Homo sapiens: one gene and its partners. The protein of the gene in region 7 purifies or fractionates together with the protein of the main gene of each other region. This does not show direct contact. Each region holds a gene or a part of one and is shown on either strand. Other genes may lie near its edges. The genes, in order: IQGAP3, RPRD2, SEC16A, LARP4B, NUP210, MAP7D1 and RPS6KL1.

Region 1 (3,500 bases), on a different chromosome or scaffold from region 7:
CCTATGACTTAGCCAGCTTCTTAACCTTTTAGCCTAGAGCCTGTAAAATAGGGATAATACTTCAGAGCTGTGGAGAGGATTAAAGGAGGTAACATGTAAAGTCCCTGACATGTGATAGGGCTTCAAATATTAATCCTGCTTCTGACACCAGTAGCCCACTCCACTCTCCCTGATGCTTGCCAGTGGGGTCTGTGTCAGGGCATGGGGAAAGGGGGGCTTGGGCTGCACAGACCCCCACCCTTCTCTTCAGGAACAGACGATACTGATTGGGTGAAAAACTGAGCTGGTGTCATCTGAGGACTAGGAAAGTGAGGCCAGCTGCTCTCTTCAGGCCAGCACCTAAAGCCCAGCAGATGTCCTGCAGGCTCATGGGACTGTCCCCTCACCTGATAGTGAAGCTGAAATCGCTCCATGTCCACACCCAGGAACTTGGCATTTACTTCAAACTTTCCTGCCTCATCTCCCGGCGTGATGTCAAAGATGACGTTTCTGAAGCTGTCAGGAACAGGATTCAAAACAGGAACCCACTGCCTCTTTCCAGGGCTACAGCCACATTCTTGCACCCACTGCTCCTCATCCTGGGCAGCGGTGTCATCCAGAACCAGTTTTCCCTCTGTCACTCCCAGAGGGCCCAGCTCGCTGTCTTCTCCATTTTACTTCTGCTCCCCACACCATCTCTTTATCTGCCCCGCCCTACGCAGCTGTTCTCACCTCTGGAAAGCTTTCCCAGTACCCTCTGCCTCAGGGCATCTAGAACTGTGCTAGACCATGTCCACAGCCCTTCACTTTCTGTCTGGGCATGCTCTGTCTCCACCATCATTCTAGCAGCTCCTTCAAGATCGGGACCATGCTTCTTCTCTTCCACCCGGTGCCCAGCCCAGAGCTCCACCCCCAGGTTAGAGGACAGGAAGGGGCTGACATCCTGCCCTCCAAAGACACATACTGAGAGGCGGGAAGATCTTCAATTTCCACCAAGACACCCTTTTCCAGGAGCTGAGCAGCAGTGTAATGAAGAGAAGGCTGCTTCTTCCCCTTCCCAGAACTCCTGATTAAAAGAAGGCCCCAGAGAATTCATCCAATAAACACTTTACCACCAAAGAAACTTGTTTTCTGTGGCTGGAAAGGAAATGAGACCCCGAGGAAGACTTCTCACTGATGGAAGACAGAGGAGGGGGGCTGCACTTGAGCCCAAGACTTTGTAAATGAGGCTCAAAGACCAGACTTAGGAAGGGACTGTGCTGTGCTGGGTGAGATTCCCCTTTCAAAGCTGGGAGATAGCAGGGCAAAGGTGACATGGGCAGGGGTGAGAAGTCACTCGTAACCTTCCAAGTACGGGAAAGCAGCACCTACTTGGAGTCGGGGGCCAGGTGGTCCAGGCAGGCCCGGATGTACTGGCTGTAGTAGTCACCCTGCTCCTCATAGAAGGTGGTCTTAGTGCTCAGGCCCTGTAATGTGGCCTGCAGCTTCACCAGCTCTGCCTTCCGCCTGTGCCTGTGTCTGTGCTGGTTGCGGATGTCCTGGGGTTGGGGAACAGATGGAGGGATGAGTGGTCCTTCCTGGCAGGAGAGCCTTAGGGCCTGACACAGGCCCAAGAGCTACACACTGTGAGGCTCTTCGGAAGAACAGGCTTCAAGGCTGTTTTCCTAGAAGGAAAATCTCAAGGATGGTATTCCAAATCCTCAAGGCATGTCCTCAGGGCCTCTGCCCGTTGAGGACTAACTGGTTTCAAGGCTGTTTGTTTTTTAGTAAAAGAAAGTTGCAAGGATACTTTTGTAGGTCATAAGCTGAGGATTGGGTTTTCATGCTCTTGTGTGAGATATGCTTCTCTCAAACCTTCTGACCTGGGCACATTACCCAGCTAATGTGGGGAAGAAAAAAAAAAAGAGAGTTGCAAGAACACCTTCCTCTCTAACTAATTTCAAGATCTTTCCTTCAGGCTAGGAGTGGTGATTCACACCTGTAATCCCAGCACTTTGTGAGAGCCTAAGGTGGGCAGATTACTTGAGGTCAGGAGTTTGAGACCAGCCTGGCCAACATGGTGAAACCCTGTCTCTACTAAAAATACAAAAATTTGGCTGGGTGCAGTGGCTCACACCTGTAATCCCAGCATTTTGGGAGGCCAAGATGGGCGGACCCTGAGGTCAGGAGTTCGAAACCAGCCAGGCCAACATGGCCTGAAACCGTGTCTCTACTAAAAATACAAAAATTAGCCGGGCATGGCAGCGCGCACCTGTAATCCCAGCTACTTGGGAGGCTGAGGCAGGAGAATCACTTGAACCCAGGAGGTGAAGGTTGCAGTGAGCCAGGATCACACCACTGCTCTCCAGCCTGGATGAGAGTGAGACTGTCTCAAAAAAAAAAAAAAAAAAGAAAAAAAAATCTTTCCTTCAAAAAGGACCCTCAGCCTTCCTCTGGCTGGTGACAATTTTGGGTGAGGACTCATCAGGAGGGGCCCACCAACACTATGGATTAACATGTATATGCACGCACACACACACACGTACACACAGGCACACGGAGCCCAGGCCCAGGTTGTTACCTTGGCCAGCTCGTCCACTAGCCCCTGGTAGCCATTTCTGGCGCTGACCAACCCCAGGGCTTCAAGTCGGCGTAGGTTCCGCAGGACGCGCCGCTGCTTCTCTGCCAGTGGCAGGAGGGAGTGAGCTGTCAGTGAGCGGTGTCGTCGCAGTGGCTCCGGTGTCTGGGCTGTACAGGCCTGGCGTCGGCTCATCAGCTGCTTGTGGGCTGCTTCCTGGGGACACACAGACGCTGGAGGGGTCTACCAGGTCCTACCATTCTGCTCCCACACCAGTGAAGGTCCCATGGGCACCAGCAACAAAGGGAGGCCTGAGCATTTTTCTGCATATCATTAAGAAAGTGCCCCAGAGCCCAGCCTCTGCAGGATATGGCTGGGGCAGGGCATCGCTTATGAAGAATATCAAGGTATAACACCATAATGCATGGTGTCACACATGGGAGGGCCTCATAGATCACCACAGGGGAAGAGTGGCCCAAAGGAGAACCAAACCCAGGCCATGGCATAAAGGATTCCGGACAGACACTAGCTGTGACTTCCCAACAATGGATCTTTCTGACGGCACAGGATGTTTGGGGGCATTTACCTGTCTGTTCTGTTTTGGGACATACCTCTACTGGCCATCCCCACCTTTTCTTTGGGAAGACCCTGGTTCAGTCTTCACTCCAGCGGGCCCAACCTGCCCCTGGCCCCCCACCTGCCTACTACCTTCTCCTGCCTCCAGGCATTCTAGCAGACCACTCTTCTGAGTGCAGGCCTTCCAGGGGAGCATTCCCAGACGGTCTCTCAGTGCCCCCCATAGCCCTAGTGTTGGTGCTTGTTTCAGTGTGTGAAGTGGGGAGAGGGGTGGGGCCCCATGACTCTGTAGCCCGAGGCTTCCCAAGGCTAAAGCTGTATCCCTCATCCTGTAGGCCTCCAGAGTTCTCATTACTGGTGAGCACAGGTGTCTGCTTCTGGCTGATGT
Region 2 (3,914 bases), on a different chromosome or scaffold from region 7:
TGAGCTGAGATTGGGCCACTGCACTCCAGCCTGGGCGACAAGAGTGAAATTCTGTCTAAAATAAAAAAAAGGATAATGACCACCAGGCATGGTGGCTCATGCCTATAATCCCAGCACTTTGGGAGGCCAGGAGTTTGAGACCAGCCTGGCCAACATGGAGAAACCCCATCTCTACTAAAAATACAAAAATTAGCCAGACATGGTGGTGTGGGCCTGTAATCCCAGCTGCTAGGGAGGCTGAGGCAGAAGAATCACTTGAACCAGGAGGCAGAGGTTGTAGTGAGCCGAGAGCACTCCACTGCACACCAACTAGGCAACAGAGTGAGACTCCATCTCAAAAATTTTAAATAAATAAATAAATAAATAAATAAAAAGAATAATGAATTAACTGTGTTATACATTTTATGGCTCTGGATTCATCAGAAATGGAATCCAGGATTAATTTAAGCCAGAGACAAACATTCACAATTCGAGTCCCTCTGGCATATGTCAGTTACCTTGCAGTGCAGGGGCTGACTGTGTCTGGGTTTTGGAAAGTGCAGACAGAATGCTCTCTGGGGTGATCTCCACCTTGGAGAGGATATTTGCCAGAGGGTTGTGAGATGTTGTCGTGGCAGGTGCAGGTGTTTTCAGGCCACTGGTGAGGTTGCTGGGGCTGGTGGGCGTTCCTGGAGAAGGTCTTGATGCAGGACTGACCCCTGGTGGCAGAAAGATGAACTCAAGAAAATGCAATTCAAAATGACTTCAATTTCCGATACTTCCCCTCACTTCAATGAGTTTGATATATTTAACAGGAATTCTTCTGTGGTTGATCCACAAATGGTCCATCATAACATGACATGTACAAAAAAAAAAAAAAAAACCCTGAAAAGATTATCTCCTTTTACTTGGAACACCATTAAAACAAACAAGTATTGGCCGGGCGAGGTGGCTCACACCTGTAATCCCAGCACTTTGGGAGGCCGAGGCAGGCGGATCACCTGAGGTCAGGAGTTCGAGACCAGCCTGACCAACATGGGGAAACCCTGTCCCTACCAAAAATAAAAAATTAGCCGGGTATGGTGGCAGGCGCCTGTAATCCCAGCTACTCGGGAGGCTGAGGCAGGAGAATCATTTGAACCCAGGAGGTGGAGGTTGCAGTGAGACAAGAGTTGAGACACAGTGAGACTCTGTCTTGAAAAAAACAAGTATTAAGTGATTTTCATAGTTTTGAGAGCCCCAATATTTCTTATTTATTTTTAAAAAATAGAGACAGGGTCTTGCTACATTGCCCAGGGTGGTCTTCAACTCTTGACCTCCAGTGATCCTCCCACCTTGGCTTTTCAAAGTGCTGGGAATTACAGGCATGTACCACCACACCTGGACAATCTTTTTTCTCCACCAAATGGCACCTACAGTTCAGAGCCCTGTAGGCGCTCAATAAATACTGCTGGCTGACTGGATGCTGAGAGCCACTGCAGTTGTATAACTCAGCCACTGCATAATTTCATGTGACTGGTAAGTTATATGCTTTTGAAATAGCTTTTAAAATGAGATTATTTAAGAAATTTCCTTTATATTTTTACATTTAAAAACACTGGGTTGATCTTTAACACAGGAAATAAAATATATAAAGAGAAAAACATTTGTTATTTTAAAAAAGATAAATATGAACAGATATTTCACAAAGAAACTTAAGTGAGAAGCAAAGGAAAAAAATTTTTAACATCTTTCATAGAAGAAATGGAAATTAAACAACTTTTTAAGGCTGGATTTGTAGACTGCACAAGGCAAGTAACTGGAGAAGGTAAGGAACAACAGAAGCTTTCATATATTAGTCATATAAAATAGCACTTTTTTGGATATCAATTTAGTTATATATTAAAATACTTTATTTTTATTTAGTTTTTGAGATATGGTCTCACTGGGTTGCTCAGGCTGGAGTGCAGTGGACATTCACAGGCGTGATCACAGTGAACTACACGTCCTGGAATTCCTGGCTTCAAGTGATCCTCCTGCATTTGCCTCCCGAGTAGCTGGGACTACACGGTATCCCACCTTGCCTGGCAAAATTTATTTAAAAAATTTCGGGCTGGGTGCAGTGGCTCATGATTGTAATCCCAACATTTTAGGAGGCCAAGATGGGAGGAACACTTGAGCCCAGGAGTTCAAGATCAGCCTGGGCAACATAGTAAGACACTGTCTCTACCAAAAAACCCACAAAACTTAGCCAGATGTGGTGGTGCACACGTGTGATCTCAGCCACTCAAAGGCTCAGGTGGGAGGATCACTTGAACCCAGAAGTTTGAGGTTACAGTGAGCCATGACTGCACCCCTGCACTCCAGCCTGGGTGATGGAGTGGGACCTTGTCTCAAAATAAATAAATAAATGGCCGGATGCGGTGGCTCACGCCTGTAATCCCAGCACTTTGGGAGGCCAACGCGAGCAGATCACGAGGTCAGGAGATCGAGACCATCCTGGCTAACATGGTAAAAGCCCGTCTCTACCAAAAATACAAAAAATTAGCTGGGCGTGGTGGCAGGCACCTGTAGTCCCAGCTACTCAGGAGGCTGAGGCAGGAGAATGGCGTGACCTGGGAGGCGGAGCTTGCAGTGAGCTGAGATCGCGCCACTGCACTCCAGCAGCCTGGGGGACAGAGTGAGACTGTCTCAAAATAAATAAATAAATAAATAAAAATAAAATTCCATTAAAAAGGTTTTATATACTTAACCCTTGCAAAGGGTTATTCATAAAATTTTTATAATTTACAGGTTTTTTTTTTGTTTTTTGTTTTTTTTTGAGACAAGAGTCTCGCTCTGTCAACCAGGCTGGAGTGCAGTGGCTTGATCCTGGATCACTGCAACCTCTGCCTTCTGGGTTCAAATGATACTTATGCCTCAGCCTTATGAGTAGCTGGGATTACAGGTACGTGCCACCACAGCTGGCGAATTTTTTCTTTTTTTGAGACGGAGTCTTGCTCTGTTGCCCAGGCTGAAGTGCAGTGGCGTGATCTTGGCTCACTGCAACCCCCGCCTCCCAGGTTCAAGTGATTGTCCTGCCTCAGCCTCCCAAGTAGCTGGGACTACAGATGCATGCCACCATGCCCAGCTAATTTTTGTATTTTTAGTAGACAGGGTTTCACCAAGTTGGCCAGGCTGGTCTTGAACTCCTGACTTCAGGTGATCCGCCTGCCTTGGCCTCCCAAAGTGCTGGAAATACAGGCGTGAGCCACCAAACCTGGCCTAATTTTTGTTTTTTGTTTTTTTTTGAGACGGAGTATTGCTCTGTCGCCCAGGCTGTGCAGTGGCGCGATCCTGGCTCACTGCAAGCTCCGCCTCCTGGGTTCAGGCCATTCTCCTGCCTTAGCCTCCCGAGCAGCTGGGACTACAGGCGCCCGCCACCATGCCTGGCTATTTTTTTGTATTTTTAGTAGAGACGGGGTTTTACCATGTTGGCCAGGATGGTCTCGATCTCTTGACCTCGTGATCCACCCGCCTCGGCCTCCCAAAGTGCTGGGATTACAGGTGTGAGCCACCACGCTCGGCCATAATTTTTGTTTTTTTAAGTAGAGATGGGGTTTCGCCATGTTGTCCAGGTTTGTCTCCAACTCCTGGCCTCAAGTGATCAACCTGCCTCCACCTCCCAAAGTGGTGGCGTGAGCCACCACACCTGGCCCTATAGTATTCTTCATAACAGTAAAAAACTGGAAACATACTAAGTGCCTAATAATAAAGGATTAGATAAGTTACCACATGCTATGCAGCTATTAAAAATGATGTAGAGAAATATTTAATGATTCATAAAAACATTCAAGATATGTAATTAACTTTTAAATAGCTAGTTTTGAAACAGTATATGCAATACACTTACTTTTTTAAAAATTGTTATACATATTTAATTCTCCAAAACATTCATATACACATATACTTTTAAG
Region 3 (3,914 bases), on a different chromosome or scaffold from region 7:
GGCGGACGGCCTAGCCCAGGGCTGGAGCAGAAATCGTCAAAGTCCGCTTGACCAGATAAGCCTGCTTTTTCAGATGAGAGATTCTCCTCATTTTCTGTCTCTCCCCCTTGGAAAAACATCGCCAGAGCTCCTGAAGCTCCTGAGTCTGCTTCTAGCGGGGCACAGCCAGACCCGGCCCCAGCCCCCAGTGGGTGGTGCGTACGGTTTTCTGGGCTATCTCCCCGGGCGAGGGGGTTCACAAGAGCAGAGGCGGGCCGGTGCTCATTCTTCACTCCTGGATTCTGCCTGAGCTCTGGGCTTGCCCAGTGATTCACAATTCTGGGATTTTGCCTGAATGTACTTTCAGGATCAGAGTTATTGGCCAGGTGGCTTCCACTTTGCAAGTGGCTCACCTCGTCTCTTCCGTCACTGGGCAAGGCTGCTGGGGGAGCCACCAGAGGGCTGTGTTGCTCATGACCAGGGCCCTGATGTAGGATGGACGGGGTGGGGAAATGAGGAACGCTGGTGGCACAGGGCACCCCGCTGGGAACAGGTCCTTCAGGGCAGGGTGAACGATGTTGCCCCGAGGGCTGTGGGCCTCCCTGCACTGGCCCCCACTGTCCTGGCATCTGCAGACCAGGCTGAGGGAGGGAAGGGGATGCTGCTGGGGTGACCACACCGTCATGTGGGTTTTGCCTGCTCAGGGGTCGGTCGAGCCCAGGCATGTTCCCATGAGGGTGGCCCCCATGAGACGTTTCAGGATCCACTCCTGGAATGTAGTGAGGAAGATATGGCAGAGTCTGAACTTCAGGCTCTGAACTGGGACCGACCTCTGCACTCCTGTTCATCTCAGGCCCAGGAGGTGCTGAAGGTGTCAATGCACCAGAAAACGGACTGGCATGTGCTCTGGGCTGTGTCAGAGGTCCAGGCAGGGGCTCACAGGGTCCCTGAGAGCTATCTCTGGCATGTGTGTGAGGAACAAGCAAACCGGGGTGCTGAGAAAACCCTGCGGGGGCTGGGCCTTGCAAGACAGGTGGACTGCTTTTGGACGAACTGCCCAGTGGTGTACTTTGGAGCGCCTGTCTACTAAAAGCAAATGGATCCGTGACCGGCTGCAACGGGCAAGTTGTCGGAGCCACTGCTGCATTATTATTAGCCCGTCTCCTGTAAGGGCTGCTAGCCCAGAACACGCTCCGAGGATTCCCGGCTGGAGGTGGCCCAGCCATGCCAGACGGGACCGTCTGGGGCGGTGGCTGCATGACTGAACCCTTGCACAAGTCGATGCTGCTTACAGAAGGAAGCAGGATATAGCTGTTCCTTAATTGGAGCTGGAAAAGAAAAAGAGAAAATCAGCATAAAATCCATATATTCAAAGTCCTAGCTGCAATCAGGAAAACTAAGGAAAAAGAGAAACATTGAACATGATTTTATGTCACTTAAATCCCAAGGACTCTCTCTCCCCTACACCCCACCCCAGCAGAGAACACCTGTCCCTGAGGAACTGTTCTGGGGGGCAGGGGACAGAGTGAGAACCCTGGATGGCCTGGCTGCGAGCTGATGGAGTATGTCTAGATGGCCACTCCCTCCCCTGGGATCCTCTACTCACAGGGCCCATTGCTGCCGCAGACCCGCGCCACAACAACAGGGACAGTGCGGAACCTGACCACTGCTGTGATATGCTACCAGACCCACAGATACTCAATGTTTTCCTGTAAACCATCCCTAGATCCAGGAAGAGCCAACTCTTCTATTAAGAAAGAAAAACTGGCCAGATATGGTGGCTTACGCCTGTACTCCCAACACTTTAAGAGGCCAAGGCGGGAGGACCACTTGAGCCCAGGAATTCGAGGCCAGCCTGAGCAACAGGGGGATCTCGTTTCTACAAAAAATACAAAAATCAGCCAGGCATGGTGGTGCACACCTGTAGTCCCAACTACTCAGGAGGCTGAGGCAGGAGGATTGCGTCAGCCTGGGAGGTTGAGGCTGTCGTGAGCTATGACAGCACCACTACCCTTCAGCCTGGGTGACACAGTGAGTCCCTAGCTCAAAAAAAAAAAAAAAAAAGGAAAACTTTATATCATACTTTCCATACATGTTAATTTTAAATTTCAAAAGGGATACAAAAGTTTAAAATTCATTCTTCCATTTTCTTTGATGAAAGAGCATTATGAAGTATAGTTATAAAAGCTGCAAAATAGGCTGGGTGCAGTGGCTCATGCCTGTAATCCCAGCACTTTGGGAGGTCAAGGTGGAAGGACTGCCAGAGCCCAGGAGGTCGAGACCAGCCTGGGCAACATAGCAAGACCTTGTCTCTACAAAAGAAGAAAGTTAGCCAGACATGGTGGCACACACCTGTAGTCCCAGGGACTCAGGGGGTTAAGGAAGGAAGATCACTTGTGTCCATGAGTTCGAGGCTGCAGTGAGCTATGATTATACCACCGCGGTCCAGCCTGGGCAACAGAGCAAGACGGTCTCTATTTTAAAAAAATAAATAAATAAAAAGTGACACAATCATTTTTTTAAAAAGCACTGCAAAATAAATATATTCATCTAAATGCCTTTTATCACACCTCTTCATAGGTCTCCGTTTTTGTACTGTGACTGGCTTAAGGTCTGAAAGGACCACCAGCAAGATGTTACCTTTGAACTGGAGCCGTAACTGTGCCTGGAATGGAAACTCCCAGGAAACTTAAAGCAGCTTTACAAGGCACAGACTGGATTCCAACACTTTCAACAACAGGCAGAATTGCCAAGAAACCTCTTACAGAAAAGAAAGGGGCAAAAACCTCCATCAGTTTTTAAATAAAACATAGTAGATACAAACTTGAATAGTTAACCTGGCCTCTTAAGGCAAAAATTCAAGGACTATATCTTTAGGAAAGTTCTTTTCTTTCTATCAGTCTTTCTTCTTGTCAGCACCACCCTCATGAACAAACAGATAAGTTTAGCCAATCAAAGGAAAAATTAAACCAAAGGGGAGGACTCTGTAGTTTAATCCACACATTTTTTTTTTTGAGACGGAGTCTTGCTCTGTCGCCCAGACTGGGGTGCAGTGGTGCGATCTCGGCTCACTGCAAGCTCCGCCTCCCAGGTTCATGCCATTCTCCTGCCTCAGCCTCCTGAGCAGCTGGGACTACAGGCACCTGCCACCATGCCAGGCTAATTTTTTGTCTTTTCAGTAGAGATGGGGTTTCACCATGTTAGCCAGGATGGTCTTGATCTCCTGACCTCATAATCCACCCGCCTCGGCCTCCCAAAGTGCTGGGATTACAGGCGTGAGCCACCGTGCCTGGCCAATCCACACATCTTTGCAGATGTATATTATTTTGGTCTCTTGGAAATCTTTCTGATATTCAGATAAAAGAAGAAAACACTGGCCAGGTGCAGTGGCTCACACCTGTAAGCCGAGCACTTTGGGAGGTAGGAGGACCACTCGAGTTCAGCAGTTTGAGACCAGCCTGGGCAACACACAGCGATACCCCATCACCAAAAAAAAAATGCCGGTCGTGGTGGTGCGTGCCTGTAGTCCCAACTACTCGGGAGGCTGAGGTGGGAAGATCGCTTGAGCCAGGGAGGTTGAGGCTGCAGTGAGCCTTGTTCAAGCCACAACACTCCAGCCTGGGCGACAGAGTGAAACTGTCTCAAAAAAAAAAAGAAGAAAACACTGATCAATGTATTTTAAGTCAAGCTATTTACTAGGAACAGCAGCAAAGGCTTCATGGAGGTTTTAGGCTCTCATCTGAAAACAAAGAATGTTCACAGCTCTATTTTATATGGACTGAAAGGAGAACAGGCAGAGCATCTTCCTCTGATCTGTGCACTGGCATTATCTTCCACTGGGTCCTACCAGCTGCACAGCCACAGCAGACACAGCGACACCTGCAACCACGGCCAGAACACGCAAACTTCCAAGCACCTCCTGAAACTCTGCTGCC
Region 4 (3,914 bases), on a different chromosome or scaffold from region 7:
GCAGTGGCTCATGCCTATAACCCCAGCACTTTGGGAGGCCAAGGGGGGGCGGATCAAAAGGTCAGGAGATCAAGACCATCCTGGCTAACATGGTGAAACCCCGTCTCTACTAAAAATACAAAAAAATTATCCGGGCGTAGTGGCGGGCGCCTGTAGTCCCAGCTACTCAAGAGGCTGAGGCAGGAGAATGGCGTGAACCCGGGAGGCGGAGCTTGCAGTGAGCCAAGATCCGGCCACTGCACTCCAGCCTGGGCGACAGAGAGAGACTCTGTCTCAAAGAAAAAGAAAATACATCACACTTGAAGAGCCATGAATGCAGACCTGGATCTGAGGCTGTAAATCATGGGCAGAGCAATGAGGACTAATCATTTCCAGCAAGTCATTTTACAGACAGAGCCCTGATATTCCAGTAATTTTGCTCAAGATAAAAAATAAAATTGGTCATATATAAAAAATAAAGTTGATTATTAATGCGTTCCTATTATTACTTGTTGGGGATTAATAGGCACAATCTCTTCAGCTGCAGAACAAAGGACGCACATGTTTTAGCACAAGTAAAAGGCTGCGATGGAGAGCCCCAGTATCACAGACTCAGAGCAGGACCAGCTGTCTGGCACACACCGCAACCTGAACATACAACATAAGTCAAGGCCATAAGCTGACCCAGAACCCCAAGGATCCCCGAGAGGGTCAACCATGATTAAAGAAACGGAAGAAGCAACTGCTGCAGGAAGAACTGAAAGGACTAGCATGGCAAGCCACGTGCAGCGATGATTCTTCAACACCCAGAGCCTACGGACTCAAGTCTCTCTGAGGTTCTCTCATGATATGCTTTTGGGAAAACGAAGTATTCAGCTATGGGTACACTTTTATAGAATGTGCTACTTCAAAAAGCCAGAAACTTTTCTTACCATCAGGACTTACTCAAAAGAGACAGAAGTAACTTTACCAAAGGTTCTTACACTGCGGTGGTTCCAGACTCAGGGGGAATTGGGGTCCTCTGAAAATCTCTCCCTGTCCCCACCTGCCCTTCACACGGCCTTAGGAGCTATTTTCTAAATGGAGTATGGTTTCATTTCTCCGCTTAGAAACCTCAGACACCTTCCCACAAGCACTAGGCCAAAGCCCACATGCCTCAGGACAGCTAAGCACCTGCGCAGTTAGGCCTGGAAACTGCCAGCTCGTTCCCCAACTCCCTGCCACCCGGTGTACGCTTCAGCTCAGACACCCATGAATCTACGACCATCTTCTGTTCATGAAACTTCTCTTTGATTCCTTCTGAAAAACTCATACTTAACCTGAAAAGCTCAACCTAGATGACAACACAATCCCTGATAAGACCTGTCAGTGTTCTGGCATTCTGTACACGTGTCTCCTTGGCATGTTTGACTTTTCCAGCCTGAGTTGTTTCATGGACCCGTATCTTTACTTTCCGTGTATACAGGCACTTGTTTTCTCAAGTTCTCTCTGCTCTGCACCTACCCTCCTTTTCTGCCTGTCAGCGGTGACATCCCTGCACATCAGGGTGCCTGGCTCCCAGCCATCCGACCCTGAGGACCACTCAGTCTTTCCCTTAGTCCACAGCGAAACCCTGGACATGAACTCTTCTCAAAGTTACTAACTCAATTTCTGCTTTCTGACCATAACCTTCTATGTATGCTACCCTTCAATCTCTCCAATTCCAACTAACCTGCATTGCTACCTCATGCAAACCTCTAGGCCATGAACCCATCTTCACTTCTCAACTAGACTTCAGCTTCAAGGACATGCTCATCCGTGTATTGCTGACTCTCGTGCATCCAATGCCACCAAACTCATGCTAATTCCCACCCAGAATGCACTTGATCTTTCAAGCATCTATAGCAGCACACAAAGAGACAATGTCTAGATCCAGTACAGACTTATGAATTCCAACCATAGGCCTTAACAAAGGCCAAAATCCATAAAAATTAATCCTGTCGACCAACTCTAATGCTGGTGAGAAGTGAGTAAAATAAGGCTGGTAAAACAGCAGGCCTTCTCCTTGGCCTTGCTGTCAGAAGCCTATTAAACACCTCTTCCTCCTCAGTTAATCCCCCTTGCATTGTACTCTGTGTAGGGGACGCCAGGTACACTACAGCACTTATCGCCCTCTGCGTCTTGCTAAGAGCTGCATGACAAGAGGGGAGACGGGCTGTGCAAGGATTGTGCTCACAGCAATCCAAAGTTCTTTATGCATAAGCTCTGTTCTCAGCTACATTTAAAATCCCCCACATAACTTGAAGGTCTGTTTTAGTATGTCAGACTGCACACATATCTGGCTTCCTATTAGATGAGGATTTTAATCCTTCAAATTATCTAGCATAGTGTCTACAACATAAATTCCTAGTAAAGAAATGACGTACCAAGGGTGGGTCAAGATAGCTGTGCGTTGCTGACCACGTCTGGGGAGTGATCAGGCTGTACAGGGGGAACTGCTGCTGGGGGCTGTACATGGGAGGGAAGTAGAACGACGTCGCGTAGCGCTGCTGGGCATACAGGCTCACGTCCAGGGGTCTAAATCCATTCTTTGGCAAAAATGTGTTTATAGCTATTGCCTTTGCTTTTATCCGTGCCTGTTTGAAAATATGTAAGTTTCTATTAGAATACTTAAGAACATCAATTTGCAAATAAACAAAGTATAACCAATGGTCTTGCTTACCTTAATTGGTTTTCCTTGAAAAGTTTTGACTTCTTCTCGAAGGTATTTGTAAGCCTAAGGGCAAAATTAAGTACAAAATTCCATTCGATTAACCTTATGAATAAGAGGCACCAATAGTTCACTCAATAGCTCAAATAGGGAAATATATAATTAAATTATGGTGAACAGAACCTAGAATAATGATTCTTGACACTCCCTGGGTCACAGATCCCTTAAAATAACCTCATAAGAGCTATGGAACGTGTACCCCAAATTCTCACAAACAAGATTTGTACACAATTTTGTAAGTATTAACAGATGCCATAGAAGTCTCCCAAAGACCACTGGCTAAGAACCTTGACCTGGTGGAAAATGATGAATACTGAGTTCCTAGTATTCATCCCAATTTCAGATTAGGAGAATGCAGTTCAGGAAATACCAGACAGGAAGGAAAAGGATTAGGATCATAACATCCAAAAGTCATTCTTGATATATCTCCTTGTTCTTCTCCATGTTAATTCTACATTAAACCCCTATAAAACTGTGAAGGCCCTGCACCTGATTCAATATCATCCGACCACATTCGCCACACGGGCTGGCAGAGCTCACACTCCACTCCACAAAAATGGTTACTCTATCTTCCGTTCCCCTTTTCCCCCTCCATCCAATTAAAACCCATCTTTCAGGTTTCTGTGTTTTCTTTTCTGAACCCCACATACTGTTTATACCATTTAACACTTTATAATATGTGCGTTAGTTTCCTCACAAATAAGATGCTTCCCTTAAAAGCAGGAAAACTACTAACTCCTCACGCCTCCTTACAGAGCTTACTTCTCAATACCATTAAAAGCATCTTCCAAAATACAATGAAGTCTGCTGGGAGATGAAGATTAGGTTCAAATTTCCCCCCAAACACTTTGCAAATAGTAAAACTTCTCTGCCCAGATAGAAGAACAAAACTGATTTTCCTAGGTTGCTTAGCTTGTTGTCCTTAGAAAGTAAAATCACATGCTTTTTATATTGCTATAAAAATTGTCCATACAAATACACTCAAATATTTAAGTTTCTACAACTTGATTTCCTCTGCAGATTATATTCAAACTTACCATCACAAGTAATCTCAATGCCCAAGTTTAGTCCCAACATGCACTAATAGTAAAAACTGGTAAACTATGCAATTCATAGGGTGATGGTGGAAAGAACTTACCTGTTGTGCATCAGCTTCTGTTTCAAATGTAATAAACCAATTATCATT
Region 5 (3,914 bases), on a different chromosome or scaffold from region 7:
GGAGTGCGGGTGCTCCACCCACTGTGCCTGGCCACTGATGTTATCACCACCCATGGTGGAGCTCCTGTTCTGGGCCAGCCCAGTGTCTGGAACATGGTCTGTTCTTAAGAGCATTGAATGTTGTGCTCAGTACCTGCCATACAAGTCGTGACATCCAGTACGTGACATCCACTGTGGTTTTGAGAATGAGGTGGCCCATTTTCCAGACAAGGAGACTGAGGCTCAGAGTGAGAGTGACTTGCTTAAGCTTGCATGGGGGTTGAGTGATGGGGTCTGTCTGGTTTGGGCCGTGTCCTTCTGCCATATCATGGCACTGCCCTCTGCCGTTCTGTGTTCCTTACGGATGGGACCTTCTCCATCAGCATCCCTGGGTCAGGTCCTGGGGTTTTGCTGAATGGAATTTTCTTTCCATGTCTCATCATCACCACTTGCTGAACCCTGGATGACAGAAGACACACACTCACTTAAATCTTTAGACTCTGCCTGGGTCACAGACCTCTTTCATTAATTCACATCATTTTGTTTCAAAATGGGTGCCTGGCAGCAAATCCCCCGCTCTAGTTTTTGGTGAGTGAAAGTGACTGACTGCTCATCCTATTTCAACAAATATGTACTGAGCACTAGCTGTATACCAGACACTGCACCACTGAACTTTGTTAAAGAAATTCAGACCTTTGGAGCACTAGCTTTTGAGCGAGGATAGATTTTCACCTGGACTCAGAGAAACAAGGGCTGCTGTTTATGGAGCTCGGGTTCTTGGGCTCCAGAAATCCCCATTTCCCTCCTTCCCCTGGTGGCCTGCAGGGCATGCTGTGGCCTGCTTAGCGCTGCCCCTGCGATCGAGGAGGATTTCGTTTCTTTAAATGCCCCAAGAGCCAGGTTCTCTGAAGAAACTGGACATTTGCAGCCCAGGGGGCCCTCTTGCAATGTAAATAGTGATCTCATTTATTCAAGTCATGGATTGGGACACTCCTGGGTGGGTTTTCTCATAGAGAGGCCAGTCTGCTGTGTTGGGAAGTAAGAACCTTGTCACTAGGTTGGGACACTCTGGGGAGTGTGGCCTTTACTCCTCTCAGGACCCCTAAGTCCAGCCCTGCATTGTTCCTGAGGTGGATCCTGCTGGGGGCAGGTGTCCCCTCCTTGGGAGGTGGGTTTTCCTGGAGGCCAGTCCCTGGCACTGAATCCTCATCATACCTGTATGTTGTCCCTTAGGTATCCCCTGTTTCCTACCTGAGGGTTTCCATGAGCCCTGTCCTGCACACCCAGAACAAGGAGGCCCTGGTGGCCGTGCCTTTGGGAATGACCGTGACCTTCACTGTCCACTTCCACGACAACTCTGGAGATGTCTTCCATGCTCACAGTTCGGTCCTCAACTTTGCCACTAACAGGTAGGATGTGGGCAAGGGTCATTTCTCCTATGAAGTCCTGTCTGGTACCTGGTAGAGACAACTGGGGATAACACAGAAAGTCTGCTGCTGTTGAAGGAAGATGTGTATTACTTCAGTTTCCAAGAGATGTGGGCATGCTGCACCATGCAGGGCCACGAGGAAACACCACTGCCCTTGGGGGATGTAGACCAGCTCAGAGGAAGACAGACAGGCATCAGCCCCCAAAGGAGGAAACAGGGCATGGGGCAGCTCCAGGGAGTGCTCCCCGAGGCACAGGAAATTGGCCCTTCAGCTTCGGCTGCCCACAGGTCCTGCCACAGTTGTGTTTCCCTGTTGCTGAATGCATTCAAAGACAGGTGTCAGGGGTGTTGCCTTATGGAAAGAACTGGGGTTTAGAGTCAGGCCTGGTTCTAGCCCCAGCTCTGCCCTTCGTGGGCCCTGTGAGTAGGTCACCATCCAAAAATCTGTTTCCACACCTCTCACGTTGGGCAATATGGCCTAGGTTCCAGGGCTTTCCTTCAGCTGAGGGAGTGGTCATGAGGACCGCTGGCAAACCATGGCACTCCGTGTGTGCGCACATAATTGCCATCCATCAGTTTAGGGCATGTCCTGGAGGAAATGGAGCCCAGTTCTCCCAGCCCTTTGGCTGCACTGCAGGTCATTCTGGCCTTCTTGTAGCAGGAGCACCTGATAGAGACCTAGTCAGCACTCAGGGTCAGAAGGTGTGGTGGAGGCAAGGATGCAGCCATGATCCCTAACCCAAACTGTCACCCCACGCAGTCCACACTTCTGCACCAAAGCTGCCATTGCCAACATTGACTGAGCACCTGCCCTGTGGCAGGTGCCTCCCCACTGCTGACCTCATGTAATGCTTATGCCAGGCCTGCGTCACGGTCACGTGATGATCCCCATTTTTCAGAGGAGGAAAGGGGCAGAGGCTGCTTCTGCAGTCAGGTTGCATAGTAAGGGCAGCCTTCCCTTTCTGGCATGTCCAGTTCCCTGGTGGGAAGAGCGTGAGGAAGCACTCTGGATCTCTTTCCCCTCGGGGCCTCAGCTTCCTTTCTGAAATGCAGGAATGATGCTGCTGCCACTGTTTGGCTGCGAGCTGCATGTGCTTTCTGGCATGACAAGTGAGGAGGTCGAGCCTGTGCCACCTGCCTGCAGTGGTCCCTCATCTGGGGCCACTGCTTGGTAACCTCGAGTTGGGGCCACACCTGGGACCTCAGTCAGTTGAATGCTTTGCTCAGCAGAGGACATGGATTACGTTTCTCCCTTTGGGAGTTGGAAGCTTCTTTCCCGAGACTGAGAGCCCTCCTTTCTCTCCTGTGCCTAGAGACGACTTTGTGCAGATCGGGAAGGGCCCCACCAACAACACCTGCGTTGTCCGCACAGTCAGCGTGGGCCTGACACTGCTCCGTGTGTGGGACGCAGAGCACCCGGGCCTCTCGGACTTCATGCCCCTGCCTGTCCTACAGGCCATCTCCCCAGAGCTGTCTGGGGCCATGGTGGTGGGGGACGTGCTCTGTCTGGCCACTGTTCTGACCAGCCTGGAAGGTAAGATAGATCCTGAGCAAGGGAACCTGTGGAGTCACGGACGCTTGCAAAGCTGGGTGGGGGCTACCTGGGCAGGGGCTCGGCACCAGTCACGGGGGCCTACAGGCAGACCTGCAGGATACTCAGGAGCAGTGCTCCAAAACTGCTGCCCGGAGACCAGATCCAGCCTGTGCCTGTTTTCTGCAAGTAAATTTTTGTTGGCACTCAGCTGTGCCATGCATTATGTATGGTCAGTGGCTGTTGTCACCCTACCACTGCCAGATTGTGTGGTCATAGCAGAGATTGTATGGGCTGCATAGCCCAAATGCTTATGTCCGACCTTCACAGAAAGCATTTGCCAGCCCTTTTCTGGAACAGCTCTGCCAAGTCGGTGGGGGGGTCCCCTGCCCCTGTGGGGCATCCTGTCTCTGCATAGTCTCACTCAGTTCCTCTAGCCAGGAGACACACGGATCTCTGCTGCTGCTGAGGAACTGAATTCACCATTTTAGTGAATTCTGTGGGAAGTGGCCGCCATAGTGGACAGCACAGGCTGGGAGACTTAAGCAAAGAAGGACACTGGGCTAAATCAGGGGCTTCCAAATTTCAGCCATGCCCAGGTGACCTGTAGTACATCTGTGGAACACGTGTACAATTATTTACTTAGCTTTTATTTTCAAATTGTCTCCACCTTTTTTTTTAACCTTACTAAATTCATTTTAAAAGGAGATGAAATACTACCTTTAAGGAAAAACAAATATAATTTGCCATAAATAGATTATGGTTGAGTCCTTTAATTGTACTTATTATATAATGTGATTGGCTTTTAACTCAGATGTGTATGTGGTGAAAGCTCTGAGCCTCACACCTGCTGTCTGTTGCTAAAAAGGAATTGATAAGGCAACGAAGGGATGGGGAGGGGCTGTGCTTTGGGGAAGGAGCTACAGAGGGCAGGGCCTGGCAGCAGCACCAGACCATTCCTGGGCAGGAGTCAGC
Region 6 (4,672 bases), on a different chromosome or scaffold from region 7:
AGGCAAGAGAATCGCTTGAACCTGGGAGGCGGAGGTTGCAGTGTGCCGAGATCGTGGCATTGCACTCCAGCCTGGGTGACAAGAGCAAGACTCTGTCTCAAAATAAATAAATAAATAAATAAATAAATAAATAAATAACAAATGGCTAGCACTTATTGGGCACTGGCTATGTGCCAGGGCCTAGTCTAAGTGTTTTCTGTTTTCATCTAATTTAAGGATGCCAATGTCTCTATGAGATAATTTCTAGCATTATTCTCATTTTACAGATGAGCAAACTTAAGACTTAGGTTAAGCAACTTACTGAGGTCACACAGAGGTAAGTTACGAAGTGGAGACTTAAACTGTTTAATTCCAAAATCTACACTCTTAAACAAATCGACTTCCAATTCCTGCTCCCACCCTCCCCTATATTTCATACCTCCCTGCTGGCACCGGTTGCAGAAGCATAACCACAATAATGGTAATAACACTTTATTGCAGGTGTCTGGTGTCTGCGTGCCAGATTCCTTGAGTTAAATCATCTCTAACCCTCACATTAACCCCACAAGGTTGACAACACTGCCCCTATTTTCCAGGGGCAGAAACTGTGGCTCCAGGAGGTAAGTCACTTGCTCCAGTCCAGTAGCCAGTACATGGCTAACTGGGATTTCCATCCAGGTTTTCTGACCTGAAAGTGGTCCCCACACTTGTCCTCTACTCCACACCACCCCCTGTTACTGCTCAGTGTCCAAGTGCAAAAAGGAACTCAGAGGGAGCAGGGTTCGTGTCACATGCTCTCGGAGTGTCAGGCCCATGCCTCAGACTATCACAGGGCACATGCTGTGAGCACATTTACTCCCAGAAAGCCCCACAGAGGACTCCTGTCACCTTTGACTATTCTGTGTGGGGAACTGCCACCATCCTGATCCAGGTTCTCATGTGACTCCATCTAGATCCCTGTGTATAGAAGAGTCCTCTCAATGCAAGAAGCCTATATGCAGTCTGCCCACCGGCCCCTGACGCAGCCCTCCCCGCCCACCGAACATCCCCCCTGCCCCTAGGAGAGCCAAGCATCTCACCCATGCTCTCATATTCAGTCTAGGCATCCTACCCAAGTATCCTAATTATAAACTAGCCACCAGCTCAGGCTCTGTATCCCAGTCACCACCCCCATTCAGGCCCCCAACTATCCAGTGCCAGAGGCCCTCAGGTGCAGAGGGCCAGTAAGCTGAGGTTGGACTCAGGCTGGGCCTCCCTGGGTGTCCCCTCTCAGGTTCAGCCAAACCAGGACAGACCCAGCCACCCTTGTTTCCAGCCCAGCCTACAAGCCTCCTGAAACCCACCAGTCTGATGGTAGCCTCCCCTCCCTGTTCTCCCAGGTCCCACACCCAGACAGTCCCCTAGAAGCATCCTCGCTGGCATGGGGAGGAGCCCACCCACAGCCCATTGGCCCCACCTTATCCTGGGCTCTCCGCACCCACACGAACTGTTTCATCCTGTGCCCACACCCCAAGGGGCAGGGAGGTGACAGGATTAGGCTCAGGACTCCATGGGGGTGTGGGGATGGGGCCACCTCCCCCCTGAGTCAATGGGAACAGAACTTGGGTCTTCAATAATCATGTTCTTCCCTCCCCTTCCAGGAAGAAAGAGAAATCGCCTCCCTCCAAAACCAAGCCCAACCAGAAACCTGTCCCCACCCCCTCATCAGCTGCTCCCAGATCCGAATGGGATTTGCAGAAGTCCTGAGCACTGGTGGTTGGTGGGGTGAGGGAGGGGAGGGGAGCTTTGGTGGTCTAAGGTGTGGGCAGAAAGAGAGAAAAAAAGAGAGTAAGGGGGGAGGTATCAAAGCCTCAGGCTGGGGAATGATGTGGCAGGTCCAGGGAGTGCCGGCTTGGAGCCTTTACCTCATTCTCTAGTGGGAGATTGGGGCCCAGAGAGGCTGGGAAGGAGGGCAGGCAGGAGAAGCAGATTTACTTCTGTCCCCCTCCTCCCCGAATCAGGCTGGGTGGGCTCCAGAGTAGGCCTGGCTGCAGGGGAGGCGGCCCACTCCCCAGCTCCCGCCCTCACCCCAAACAATGCCGCCTCCCCCTCCCCCTCGCCTTTATCCGGCGGGTTACTTGGCAGCAGCGGCTAGAGACCTCCCTCTCTCCTCCCCTCCCTCCTTTCCCCTCCCCGCCGGCCCGCAGCAGCAACAGGCCCTTTGCGCGGCAGCTGGACGGATGGGGTGGGGGCGAGGTCTGGGCCAGGGCCTGAGGGTACGGGCACTAAGGCCGAGGCGTCGGTATGCAGGGCCCAGGCCTGAGAATATGGACCCCCGACACACTCAGGCTGGGGTCACATGTGCCACGGGGGATGGGGAAGGGGACGGAAGCCCTAGCTCAGTAGAAGAGGATCTTCAAGGCCCGGGGTGAATCGGGAAGGGACGTGGGGGCGGGGAAGCTGAGATGGCACTAAGCTGGGGCAGAAGGGTCACCCCAACAACTCCCGCGCGGGGTCCCTGCGGCTCCCGACGCCCGATGCGTCCGGCACCCGGGGTGGGGGAGGGGGCAGCTGTCAGAGGATGCATCGCGAGCCTGGAGCCGCCGCCGCCGCAGCCTTTATTTTTAAACTTCCAAGTGGTCAGAGGGCGCGGCAGCGGAGGGGTCCCCGCCCAGCCGGCCGGCCTCATCCTCGGCCGCCCTGCAGCCCCTCCATCTACCCCCATCTCGCCTCCGCGTGGCTCCCGGCATACCTGGGGGTGCGCCCGCCCCCAGCTCCGCACGCGGGCCGCTCTCCATGGCTGCGGCGTCACTGGGGGTCTCGGGGTCTCAGCGGCGGCGGCGGCGGCGGCCAGTGGCCAGGACAGGGGTCCCGCGGCGCATCACGCCCGGCCCGGCCCGGCCCGGCAAGTAGCGACTCGGAGGCGGGGGCGCTCCGGGGAAGGTCGAGGCAGGTGGCCCGCGAGTCTCGGAGGTGCCGGTCGCCCGGGGTCTCTCGGCTGCGGTCGCGAACCCGTTCCCCGCCCGGCGCCGGCCCAGTCCCGGCCTCGGCCCAACCCTATTGTACCGCCCGGGCTGGGCCTGGCCTCTCGCTGGCGCGTACCAAGTTCGAGGCGGGGGGGTCCACCCCAGCAGCGCCCCGGGACCCAGCCCCCCGCGCCCGCGCCGTCCGCGCCGTTCGCGCCGCCCCCGCCCCGGAGCCCCGCGCCCGCAGCCTCCCGGCGCCTCTCCCACGGCCACGGCCGAGCGGGCTCCACGGCTCCAGGAGTTCGCCGCGCTAGCTGCCTCCCCCTGCGTCCGCGTCTTGGTACGCGCCGCAGCGCCTGAGGACTAAGTAGGGAGCGCTCGGGTGACTCACCCGCCGCGGGGACTGGGGGAGAGGGGGAGCAGGGCTGGGACTCCCCTTTCCCACCCTGGAGTTTGGGGGCTCTGGCACTGGGGCTGAGAGGGCAGCTTCGAGTCCAAATTCTCGCTCAAACCCACCTAAACCAAAGCGGCCCGGGGGACGTCGGGAGGCATGAAGGAGAGTCACAAGGAGACCCCTGAAAGGGTTTCGCTTTCTCTCCCCTGCTGATGGCTGGGCTGGGGACAGGTCTGGGAGCCTTGCTGCCGCCCTTGCTCCGGCATTCTGCGCTTGTGTCTTCCCTGCTCCTCTGGGGGTAATTACAGCCCTGCGCAGCTGCCTTACCCAGGTCTCTAATCTGCTGGGTCCCTCCCGGCTCCAAACTGGGTGGTCCTAGCCCTGGACCTCCCCCACCCCCACCAGACGACCCCGCCAATCACCCCAGAAGGATTTTCTCCCAGTGGTCTGTCGATGAGGGGGTGGTGACCCCCTCCAGAATCCACTCCCCAAAGTAGCCCTGCTTCCCAGCCCTCCAGAATGGACTCCCAGCCCCCTTGTTGGTGCCAGCTGAGGTGAGGGCTTCAAGCCAAGCCAGGCCCAGCCCGGGGCAGAGTGGGGAGCTTGCTGGGAAGGTGGATGGATGATGGTGGTGCTGCTGCAGGGACTTGGGTTGCGGGGGAGGAGGAGGGGCAGCTGTGCCCTGCCCACCCTGGCCCTGCCCTTTGTCCTGACTTCTAGAAGGTCAGTTCTCTAGTTCTTCATTGTCCAGAGATTAGGCCCAGTGAGATACTGTCCCCCTTGCCCCCCTTCCCTCCAGTTTCTCCTTCCTTTAAGCAGCTCCAGAAAGCGGCCATTTGGAGGGATAGAGTGGGAAACAAAAGGGTCAGGGGCTCAGGCAACCTGGGAGCAGCCTGTCCTGGGATGTGTGCGTATCTGGGGGCTTGGACACTCTTGGGAAGGCCTGGGAAGGGAATAGTGTCCCCTCTGGCCCAAAAACATTAGAAAAGGATGATGATAGAAGGGCGGCAACTGGAGCCAGTAACCTTGAGCTAGTGACTTAACTTTTCTAAAATCTAATTTGCTCTCCTACAAAATCAGAAAAATAGTAGTGCCATGAGGTATCTTGGGGTCTTTGTAAAGATTAAATAAGGCAATGGAAATGAAGTGCTGAGCACAGAACCTGGCATCTAGGAAGTGCTCAGTAAACAAGTATAATGGTGATGAAGGCATTGATGAGTAAAAGTGGAAGGACGAGGAGCAGATCCCCCATCTTTGTGTCAGTCATCTTATCTGCAGGGTGGGGGGACTGCGGGGATGACGGAGTTCATGACAGTCCTTTGTGAGGTCAGGGGCCTCACAGCCTGCCTCTTCC
Region 7 (3,914 bases):
GAGGCAAGGCCAGCACCCTGGGGTTGTGACTCCTTGGCTGTTGGCCTGCCCTGCGGACATTCCCCAGGGAGGCTGTGGCCAGCCATGGTCGGGGTGGGAACTGGGCCCTGAGGCCAGGCTGCTGGGCAGTGAGGAAGGCCACAGCTTGGGATCAGGGTAGGGGAAGGGGCACTGGGCTTCGATCCTGGGCAAATTGAATTGATTTTCTCATCTACCAACCAGGAATTCCAAATGCCTACCTTCCCTACATCTCTGGATTGTTGAAGCCATTCTGAAAGCCCTTGGTGAGGGCCAGGTGTGGTGGCTTATGCCTGTAATCCCTGTAATTTGGGAGGCCAAGGCGGGTGGATCACCTGAGGTCAGGAGTTCAAGACCAGCCTGGCCAACATGGTGAAACCTCGTCTCTACTAAAAATACAAAAATTAGCTGGGCATAGTGGTGCCCGCCTGTAATCCCAGCTACCTGGGAAGCTGAAGTAGGATAATCACTTGAACTCAGGAGGCAGAGTTGCAGTGAGCCTAGATCAAGCCACTGCACTCTAGTCTGGGCAACAGAGACAGACTCCATCTCAAAAACAAAACAAAACAACAAAAAACAAAAAACCAAGAAAGCCCTTGGTGAGTGGAAAGGCTGTGAGAATGTCAGTGATCACATCTGCCAAGTCACATGGCCTCTCTGAACCTTGCTCTTTTTAAGTACAAAACGGGGTCATAGCAGCACTTCCTTCAGGGGGTCCTGAAGAGGATTCTGTTAAAGCAGGCAATTCAGGCAGAGCAGCAGCCTGCACCTGCCGCAGAACACACCCTTGATAACCTGTCGTGATTATTACCAGTGTCATCCGAGGGGAAGCCCACCCTGGCTGTAAAGTGGTTACTCTGTGCTAAGCACTTTACATAGGTTGTTTAATTTTATCCCCACAATCCTGCCAAAATTCAGGCCTGAGCCTCAGAGAGGTTATGTTGCCTACTGTCCCACTGCTAAAAAGTGGTCAAGTCAGGACCTGAACCCAGACAGGCTGATCCCGGAGCCCTGCAGACTTTACTGGAACTGGGGGCACAACCAGGTGACCCTGGCAATGGCCTTCCCTCCTGAGCCTGTTTCTCCATCATCAGTGAAAGGAAGGCAGTGGACTAGATGAGAGCGCCCAGGACCCTTTTCTCAGCAGGAGCGAGGTGTCCTCTCCAACCACCAGAGGTCTCTCCTCCAACAGCCAGAGACCGAGTCCAGCCTGGGCTTGGCTCCCTGACCAAACTTGTGCAATGTTAGAAAAAGCAAGGAAGAAAACTCTGGAGTCATTTAGGAGAACAGAGTTTCCCACAAATCCTGACACCCCAGATAATTCCCCACTGTCCCTTGCCAAGTGGGATTCCCCACCACCTGGTCCTGGGCAAGGGCCTGTAACTGACAGAGTCCAAAAAAACTAGCGAAGGAGGGAAGGCTGAGGAGGCCAGAAATAAACCTTGATCCATACACTGAAAGATTTCTGTTAAAAACATATTAAAACCAACCTCAGTATTCAGAAATAATTAGACTAAAACATTAACAGTGATTATCTTGGAGTTCGGCAGGATTCAGGGGATTTTCTTTTTCTTCTCCTTTTTCTTTCATTATATTTCAAAAGGGCAGCAAAGCAGCAGGCATTTTCCCATTCATCCAACCAAACAAGAAACTCCTTTTACTCAGTGGTTTGGAGGATGGAGGACTGTCTAGTGCCTTGACTTCTTTGTTTATTATTTATTTTTTTGAGACGGAGTTTCACTGTTGTTGCCCAGGCTGGAGTGCAATGGTGTGATCTCAGCTCACTGCAATCTCTGCCTCCCAAGTTCAAGCGATTCTCCTGCCTCAGCCTCCCAAGTAGTTGGGATTCCAGGCATGTGCCACCACACCCAGCTAATTTTGTATTTTCAGTAGAGACGGGGTTTCACCATGTTGGTCAGGCTGGTCTTGAACTCCTGACCTCAGGTGATCCACCCACCTTGGCTCCCCAAAGTGTTGGGATTATGGGTGTGAGCCGCTGCGCCCAGCCCCGCTGACTTCTTTGAACCTCAGTTTAATTCTCTGTAGGACAAGTATTAAAATGCAGCACTGTCCAATTGAACTTCTTATCATGATGGCAGGATTATATGTCTGCACTGTCCAATATGGAAGCCAGTAGCCACATGGGGCCATTGAGCACTTGAAATGTGACTGGTGCAACTGAGACACAGATGACTTCATTTTAATGAATATGAATGCACAGAGGCTTATGTGCCTAGTGACTACTGTGTTGAACAGCACCCTATAAGGCTTCGTTCCCCCATGGTGACTGTGAGGATTTAATGCCACAGCTCTGTAAATGAGAAGGTTCCATACAACTGTCGGGTGAGCCTTCCATTTGGGAAGATGGAAGGCAGTTCTGAGTGCTTTCTCTCACCTTTTAAAAAAGAGCAATTGTTTTAAATAAAGAGACCCACTGAATTCTTGGGACAGAGGGACAATTAAAGCTTTGGTGAAACACGGTAAACCTTTTCTTTAAAGATGCACAAAGTATCAAAATCCCAGGAGGACTCTCCCATGGAACAAACAAGCCTAAAGGTTTCAAACAAGTTCTTAAACTCAAAGGTCCACAGGGGCCAGGCATGTGAGCAAATAGGCAGGGTGGAGGCGCAGAAAGGAGGGCTGGTGCCCCGTCTAAGGCAGGCATCTCCTCCTCCACTCCCTGCTGCCACAGGGGAATGGGAGGCCAGCGTTTCCAGATCTGATTTTTTCAAGAGAAGCAGGAAATCTGGACTTTTATAAGAATCTGCACATTTTCAAATGTTGGTAACAACTAAAAAAACCCAAAAAACAAACAACAAAAAAAACACCCCTGTGTTTAAGCCAAATAAAAGAAGAAGTGACTTGGATGACCTTCTTTTTCTTCCTCCACCCTGTCTCAGAGCCTGGCTCCTGCACGAGGCTCAGCAAATACCCGGTGATGTCTCCCTGGCCCCCAGGCTCTGAGGCCAGGCCCTCGGGTATTCTGGCTGCTTGCCAAGTCCCGACCCACCCACCTCACTGCTCCCTGCCACCATCTCTTCAGCCCTTAGTTATCCTAACAGCCGGACACGTTAGGGGTCACTCAAGCATCATCCCGAGCAAGCCCTTTGCTTCCTCCCTGGGCCTGAGGGTTGCTGCTGGCTGGCACTGCCCACTTGCCCAGATCTGTCTGGGCACAGCTGTGGAATGGAACAAGGGTGACAGTATATCCAAGTCTGGCTGCAGGGACCCAGGCCCAGGGGCAGTAACACCTTTCCTAATTTGAGGAAAGTGATGCTCCTGGCTTGGGCATGACACAGGGAAAGGAAGTAGGATCTCAGGAGGGAGGTGAAGTCCTTAAGTTGAGTACCCAAGACAGGATAAAAAAGAAAAAAAAGAAGGGTAGTCCTGAAATAGAATGCGGCGGGCCACTGGCTCACGCCTGTAATCCCAAGTGCTTTGGGAGGCCTAAACGGAGGTGGAGGATCACCTGAGGCAAGGAGTTCGAGACCAGCCTGGGCAACACAGCGAGATCTCTCTACAAAAAATAGAAGACAATAGCAGGGCTTGAGACTGTGGTCCCAGCTACTCAGGAGGCTGAGGTGCGAGGATTGCTTGAGCCTGGTAGGTCGAGGCTGCAGTGAGCCGAGATCACGCCACTGCACTCCAGCCTGAGCTACAGAGCGAGACCCTGTGTCAAGAAAAAAAAAAAATGGTTGGGCTTGGCTTTAATTTGTGCTTTCCATCTGCAGGGGCCTCGAAACACTGGATTCCTAAACCACTTTCCTGAGGCTAAACAAGTTTGGGGAATTCTGTGTCACAGTGTACATCTGCACCTAAACACTCTAAGAACTCCGATCATTAAGAAACAAAGCCATATAACTTCAACTCGCTGTTTTCCTATCATACTCAGCTCA

Evidence for each region.
Region 1: the proteins of RPS6KL1 (region 7) and IQGAP3 purify together in Homo sapiens (affinity purification with mass spectrometry; one large-scale study listed by BioGRID and IntAct). This does not show direct contact.
Region 2: the proteins of RPS6KL1 (region 7) and RPRD2 purify together in Homo sapiens (affinity purification with mass spectrometry; one large-scale study listed by BioGRID and IntAct). This does not show direct contact.
Region 3: the proteins of RPS6KL1 (region 7) and SEC16A purify together in Homo sapiens (affinity purification with mass spectrometry; one large-scale study listed by BioGRID and IntAct). This does not show direct contact.
Region 4: the proteins of RPS6KL1 (region 7) and LARP4B purify together in Homo sapiens (affinity purification with mass spectrometry; one large-scale study listed by BioGRID and IntAct). This does not show direct contact.
Region 5: the proteins of RPS6KL1 (region 7) and NUP210 purify together in Homo sapiens (affinity purification with mass spectrometry; one large-scale study listed by BioGRID and IntAct). This does not show direct contact.
Region 6: the proteins of RPS6KL1 (region 7) and MAP7D1 purify together in Homo sapiens (affinity purification with mass spectrometry; one large-scale study listed by BioGRID and IntAct). This does not show direct contact.

What each region holds. Positions count from the first base shown.
Region 1 is NC_000001.11:156,527,566-156,531,065, forward strand, and holds part of IQGAP3 (ras GTPase-activating-like protein IQGAP3), read right to left. Parts: intron 2,753-3,500; coding exon 2,540-2,752; intron 1,865-2,539; exon of another isoform or gene 1,765-1,864; intron 1,518-1,764; coding exon 1,351-1,517; intron 1,046-1,350; coding exon 944-1,045; intron 496-943; coding exon 387-495; intron 1-386.
Region 2 is NC_000001.11:150,461,311-150,465,224, reverse strand, and holds part of RPRD2 (regulation of nuclear pre-mRNA domain-containing protein 2), read right to left. Parts: intron 699-3,914; coding exon 498-698; intron 1-497.
Region 3 is NC_000009.12:136,476,378-136,480,291, forward strand, and holds part of SEC16A (protein transport protein Sec16A), read right to left. Parts: intron 2,454-3,914; 5' UTR 2,332-2,453; intron 1,308-2,331; 5' UTR 1,239-1,307; coding exon 1-1,238. UniProt on the Homo sapiens protein: Acts as a molecular scaffold that plays a key role in the organization of the endoplasmic reticulum exit sites (ERES), also known as transitional endoplasmic reticulum (tER).
Region 4 is NC_000010.11:827,001-830,914, forward strand, and holds part of LARP4B (la-related protein 4B), read right to left. Parts: coding exon 3,867-3,914; intron 2,735-3,866; coding exon 2,681-2,734; intron 2,595-2,680; coding exon 2,385-2,594; intron 1-2,384. UniProt on the Homo sapiens protein: Stimulates mRNA translation.
Region 5 is NC_000003.12:13,326,245-13,330,158, reverse strand, and holds part of NUP210 (nuclear pore membrane glycoprotein 210 precursor), read left to right. Parts: intron 1-1,212; coding exon 1,213-1,388; intron 1,389-2,721; coding exon 2,722-2,942; intron 2,943-3,914. UniProt on the Homo sapiens protein: Nucleoporin essential for nuclear pore assembly and fusion, nuclear pore spacing, as well as structural integrity.
Region 6 is NC_000001.11:36,154,502-36,159,173, reverse strand, and holds the start of MAP7D1 (MAP7 domain-containing protein 1), read right to left. Parts: upstream 3,015-4,672; 5' UTR 2,757-3,014; coding exon 2,711-2,756; intron 1-2,710. UniProt on the Homo sapiens protein: Microtubule-stabilizing protein involved in the control of cell motility and neurite outgrowth. Facilitate microtubule stabilization through the maintenance of acetylated stable microtubules.
Region 7 is NC_000014.9:74,912,986-74,916,899, forward strand, and holds part of RPS6KL1 (ribosomal protein S6 kinase-like 1), read right to left. Parts: intron 3,536-3,914; coding exon of another isoform or gene 3,488-3,535; intron 1-3,487.